Linked DNA regions of Homo sapiens: region 1 is linked to region 2. The links come from fine-mapping of genetic effects on plasma protein levels. A gene starts in region 2. The other region holds a variant in brackets. All regions are shown on one strand. Distances are from middle to middle.

Region 1 (2,920 bases), 19 kb after region 2:
GACCAAGTAGAGATGGATAGCTTGGGTTAAAAGTTTAGAAAATTAGAGTTAAGAGGGTTACACAAATAGTTACAGCTTTCAGCAAACATGACATTGCTGTTAATTCTACATGGAAAATAAAAATCACTATTTTGTCTCCTGCAGTGAGAGAGTGTGGAGAACTTGAGCTCCCTCAACACGTGCTCATGAACTGCAGCCACCCTCTGGGAAACTTCTCTTTTAACTCGCAGTGCAGCTTCCACTGCACTGACGGGTACCAAGTAAATGGGCCCAGCAAGCTGGAATGCTTGGCTTCTGGAATCTGGACAAATAAGCCTCCACAGTGTTTAGGTATGTAGACCTTATTCTTTTCATCCTCACTGACATAGAATTTTGGGGGAGAAGAGGACACAATGAGCTTTCTCCATTAAAAAATGTGAGAAATAATGACCATCTAGGTTAGATGGAAAACTCTGGTTATCACTGTTAACTGTCAACCAGAGTAACATTAATTTCAATTTTCATGGTATTTTTTTATGGGTAGAGTGACTTAGTCAGTTTAATTGTTGATTCGCAGGCAAAAACATTACAAAGGGACCCCTCTTTCCCTTTGTTAATTGTAAAGTAAACAGAGTACAATGATGAGGACTTAGGGGTTAAGAATTATTAATTTGATAATTTTACCTAACTTCTCTACATGAAAAACAAGGGTGTTTGATCTTTCCAAGCAGCTATTGAAAACACCATTTAACCATTCTAGTGCATCAACCTGCCTGCCACTTTGGGAAGGTGTGACTGCTGCAGAATTTGAAGGCTTCCAAGGTGATGGACAAAATTTGTCCAAGGACTCACACTATTATTCTGTGGTTGGTTTTAGCTGCCCAGTGCCCACCCCTGAAGATTCCTGAACGAGGAAACATGACCTGCCTTCATTCTGCAAAAGCATTCCAGCATCAGTCTAGCTGCAGCTTCAGTTGTGAAGAGGGATTTGCATTAGTTGGACCGGAAGTGGTGCAATGCACAGCCTCGGGGGTATGGACAGCCCCAGCCCCAGTGTGTAAAGGTGAGTTTCAGGTAGTTGGGATGTATAATGTCCATTGCACCCAGTCCTTACTTAGTGCATAGATGAAATTGACCAGCTTATGGAGAAGCTGGCCTGAATTGCCAAAATTTAATTCTCTTCCTACCTGCCATTCAGCTAGATTGGGTTCATCTGAGATGAGAAAGGAAAAAAATTCCTTTCTTTCCCCAAACACAAA[T/C]GCAGGCAGTTTCAGAATGGCCTCATTCATAATTTCCCCATAAGATTAGAAAGGGTGGCCTCTACATCTATAAGTGGACACTAGAAGACCTACTGAGACAGGTTTATAGAAGTATAGGGAATAGAGGACATTAAGAATACAGCTTGGAGGAATCTTTGTTTTTAACAGACTCAGATCACCCTGGGAACTGGTAATCCAAGTCTGGACAAACATCATTAGGGTCTCTTGACCTTTACATCTTGCTAGCTCCACCTGCATTTCAGAGGTGGTTCCACCATTGCTCTCTGTGTGGCTTTTCTCCTTTCTCAGTATCTTTCTCTTTATCCTTGGTTATTCTCTCCAGCTGTGCAGTGTCAGCACCTGGAAGCCCCCAGTGAAGGAACCATGGACTGTGTTCATCCGCTCACTGCTTTTGCCTATGGCTCCAGCTGTAAATTTGAGTGCCAGCCCGGCTACAGAGTGAGGGGCTTGGACATGCTCCGCTGCATTGACTCTGGACACTGGTCTGCACCCTTGCCAACCTGTGAGGGTAGGATTTTTCATTAGCAACCTCCATTCTGTCCAAGAAGGAATCATGGCATGGTAGAGAGGCCAAGGGCTCTCAGTGTCGGGGTGATCTCTTCTAAGTTCTTGCACTAGAGCAAGCTCTTCAACCTCCAGGAACCATGGTTTTCTCATCTGTGAAATGGAGCTAAGAATTGCAAGGTGCTTGTGAGGATTAAGTACATAAAAAGTATACAATTAAATAGCATGTATAAAGTACCTAGCATAGAGCTTCTGCTCTACTGACATATCCGAGGTATAGGACCATGTCCTATACTTGAGAGGGAGTTGGGAGCAGCGGCTAAGGTGGCTAAAGAGAGTGGTTCACCATGTAGTCTTTGAGGGTAGCCTTTGACAAAGAAGCAAAGGAAGGAACACTGCATCGAAAAAGTGTGTGATGCAATCCCAGGCAATTACATAATTCCGCCAAAATGAATTCTCTGCAATTGCCTCACACCCTCAGTTTATAAGGCGGACAGTGGTAATGGGAGAATAGGAAATTTACGATAGATTAGTGAATTCCCAGACCTGGATGACAAGCCCAACCCTGCTACTATCTAGCTATGAGACTTTAGAGAAGTCACTTAACACTTCTGAACCTCACTTTTCTTGCCTAAAACATAAGAGAGAAGAGAGAAACACTAGAGGATTTTGGTGTTTTTGTTTGTTTGTTTGTTTGTTTGTTTGTTTGTTTGTTTTGAGACAGAGTCTCACTCTGTCGCCCAGGCTGAAGTGCAGTGGCACGATCTCAGCTCACTGCAACCTCTGCCTCCCAGGTTCAAACGATTCTCCTGCCTCAGCCTCCCGAATAGCTAGGATTACAGGCAACTTTTTGTATTTTTAATAGAGACTAGGGTTTCACCACTTTGGCCAGGCTGGTCTCAAACTCCCGACCTCAAGTGATTCACTCACATCAGCCTCTCAAAGTGCTGGGATTATAGGTGTGAGCCATTGTGCTCAGCCGGATTTTTGGTTCTTAAATGCTCTGAGTCTGTAAAAACCAGAGGTCAAAGCCCAGAGCAAAGAGGTAGTCTTTACACTTTGAAAAGTTTCAGAAATAGCCTGGAAATGAAATGCTTTATCAAGGAAGAGCATGAGGAAACCAATCTTTATCAGAACTGAGGTCACTCAGGGCTTAA
Region 2 (2,920 bases):
ACTTAACAGCGTGATAGGTATTGTTCCAAACACATTAAATTCATTTAATGGTCCTTACATGTCTATGTATTTGGTGATTATTATCCTTATTATTCACATTGCTGAGTGTATTATTCTGTTCTCATGATGCTGATAGAGACATACCCGAGACTGGATAACTTATTAAAAAAAAAAAGGTTTAATGGACTCACAGTTCCACGTGGATGGGGAGTCCTCACAATCATGGTAGAAAGCAAAAGACACGTCTTACATGGCAGCAGGGAAGAGAGAGAAATGAGAACCAAACAAAAGGGGTTTCCCCTTATAAAACCATCAGCTCTCATGCGACTTATTCACTACCATGAGAACAGTATGGGGGAAACCACCCCCATGATTCAATGATCTACCAGGTGCCTCCCACAACCTGTGGGAATTATGGGAGCTACAATTCCAGATGAGATTTGGGTGGGGACACAGCCAAACCACATCACTGAGGAAACTGAGTTATAGGGAGATTAGTAACGCCCAACACAGCTGGTAGGTGGTGGAGCCAGGCAGTCTGACTCTAGGGTCTGGACTCTGAACTGCATCATGCTGCCAAGAAGTTCCTCATTTTTTCCTCTCTCTAAGTTTCCCTTATTCCCCTACAGTCATTCCTTCAACAGCATTTCCTTCACCATCTTTTCTACTTCTACTATATAATTAATTTTTTCTTCTTGGTCCCAAATTCCAACGTGCAAATGCAGCCTTATATACCCTAATTCATCTTTACCTTTAGACTTTCTTCCAATGTTTCTACTTCATTCCATTTTAAATTTATCCATGAGATGCCTATTTACAAGCTGTAACCATCATGAAGTGAATGAAGAATAATACCTACTACTGTACAATAGAATTCCAAGAGTATAAATAGGAGTTATGGCTTTCTGACTTGAAACTAAATACTTGATACTTGATTTTGCTGTCTGAGATCAATCTGAAAAGTAATAATAATCACTAACATTTGTTGAGCATCAATTGTGGGCCAAGTGTCATTTCAATCACTCTGTACATATTAACTCATTTCATCCTACAACAACCCGGTGAGGCAAGTTCTGTTATTCTGTTTTACAGTTGAGGAAACAGAGGCATAGAGAGCTTAAGTAGTTTGCCCAGTAGATAGCCAGAAGAGGAGCCAGGATGGGTCTCGGGCAGTTTAACAGCACAGCTGAAGTCTTAACCACTATGCCAACAGCTTTTTGGTCCTACACATCCCATGGGAAGAGGAAAATAAAAAGGTATCTATTTGTATACCTTTTTATTTCTGATATAAGAAGCAGAATTCCTTTCACATGACCTATGTCTATTTAATACGTCATTTTGAAACTTACCAATAAAATTTCCCAAGCGCCAGAAAACTGTTAGTGGCTTTTTCCATTTCTCTCTATTTTTTTTTGTGCTACTAATTTTGCTTCTTTCCCTCAGAAGGCTGCCGGAATAGTAAACATTCACTGACATGTCATAATTACTGGAAAATGGGCACTGGAAAATCACATTGTAATTAATTCAAAGCATGTTTTCCAAATGTACTACTTTAAATTGGAGCTTATATCATAATCCAAGGAAACCTTTGTGTGTGTACTGTTCCCACATTGCTCAGCCTGGGATATCCAGGAGTAATTCACCTTGCGCCTGCCTCCAGACCATCTTCCATGGAAGGGGGTGACCCCTTGCCTCTTGGCAACCACTATTTCTAAGCTGCCAACATTACTCTTGCATTATCAACATTCTAACTTCATGGGAAGGGCTGTGGTGAGTTTCTGGAATGTGAATAGGAAGTTGTTTTTCTAAACAGCCTGACACTGAGGGGAGGCAGTGAGACTGTAAGCAGTCTGGGTTGGGCAGAAGGCAGAAAACCAGCAGAGTCACAGAGGAGATGGTGAGTTTATTTTTTTCTGCATGGGAAGTGGTTGAAGTGAGTTGGAGTGGTATGGAGTAAAGTCAGGCAGGTAAAGGTTCAGAAAGTGAGGAACAGCGATAGCCATGGAGTTTTATGTTGAATTGCCTATTAGATTTTGTGAGTACTTTTAAACTTGCTGTCCACTTTGACCCTCCCAACACCCTTGTGAGTTGAGGTTGCTATTTCTATTTTACAAATAAAGCCATCGTGGTTTACAGAGGCTGTGTTTTATCTAAGCTTCACTGTTAGGCTACATGATGTTGGGATCTGGGGCCTGTCCTCTGGCTCCGCAGCTGCTGTTCCTCCTACTAGAATTTATAGGGGCTCTCTGAGAATAGATCATGGTAAACCTGTCACCCCATTTTCCAAGACTGTACTTCTCTCTGGGATAAATGATGGAATAAATGGAAGACTGGGTAGGTGCCCTGGGACAAGCTTACAATTGAATAGTTTCTCATCCCCATCCCTCCCATTTCTTTCTGTGAGCCTATGAATCTTCTGGGACTGATCTGGAATATCCACATAGTTTCCTTTTCTGCCCTAAGACTCAATCTTGTTAATGACTCAGTTTCTTCTTCTATAAAATGGATATAGTAATAATACTCTATAGTTTCATCATGAGGATTAAATAAGATTTTGCTGAAAAGCATCCAGATCTGAGCCTGACACATAGTAAGTGATTAGTAAATGTTAGCCATTATTGTTACAATAAAAAGAAAATTCTTAGGAATAGTGGGGTTTAGGATTCAGGGAAGATCCAAGGATAGCTAGGCATTTTGAACTCAGCAATGTTATATGCTCATGGATAAGATGCACGTGGTTAGGCTACTTCTAATTCAGGGAAGATCCAAGGATAGCTAGGCATTTTGAACTCAGCAATGTTATATGCACCTAGATAAAATGCACATGGTTAAGCTACTTCCAATTTTCCTCAGACTTTCCAAGAGTATCCCACATAGTCCCAGGGTCCGAAATCCTGCAGTCTGTGGCTATGGAGGAACC

Alleles and levels. Positions count from the first base shown, and alleles are read on the strand shown. Strength reflects both the effect of a copy and how common the allele is.
For the plasma level of the protein whose gene starts at base 1,845 in region 2, allele C in region 1 goes with a lower level than allele T (moderate association).

Evidence for each region. PIP is the posterior inclusion probability: the model's chance that the variant is causal. The UK Biobank Pharma Proteomics Project read protein levels with antibody pairs (Olink). The fine-mapping took linkage between variants from a reference panel, not from the people measured, so its PIPs are less certain.
Region 1: its variant is fine-mapped to the plasma level of the SELP protein (UK Biobank, PIP above 0.99).

The regions. Positions count from the first base shown.
Region 1 is chr1:169,610,339-169,613,258 of GRCh38, reverse strand. SELP (selectin P) reads left to right here. Exons shown (of 17, transcript NM_003005.4): 5 at 145-330; 6 at 857-1,042; 7 at 1,582-1,767. Among named protein-coding and RNA genes, the nearest start is that of SELP, 18 kb to the left of the region's middle. The variant T/C (reference allele first, on the strand shown) is at 1,239.
Region 2 is chr1:169,629,049-169,631,968 of GRCh38, reverse strand. SELP (selectin P) reads left to right here and starts at 1,845. Exons shown (of 17, transcript NM_003005.4): 1 at 1,845-1,897. The coding sequence starts at 1,895.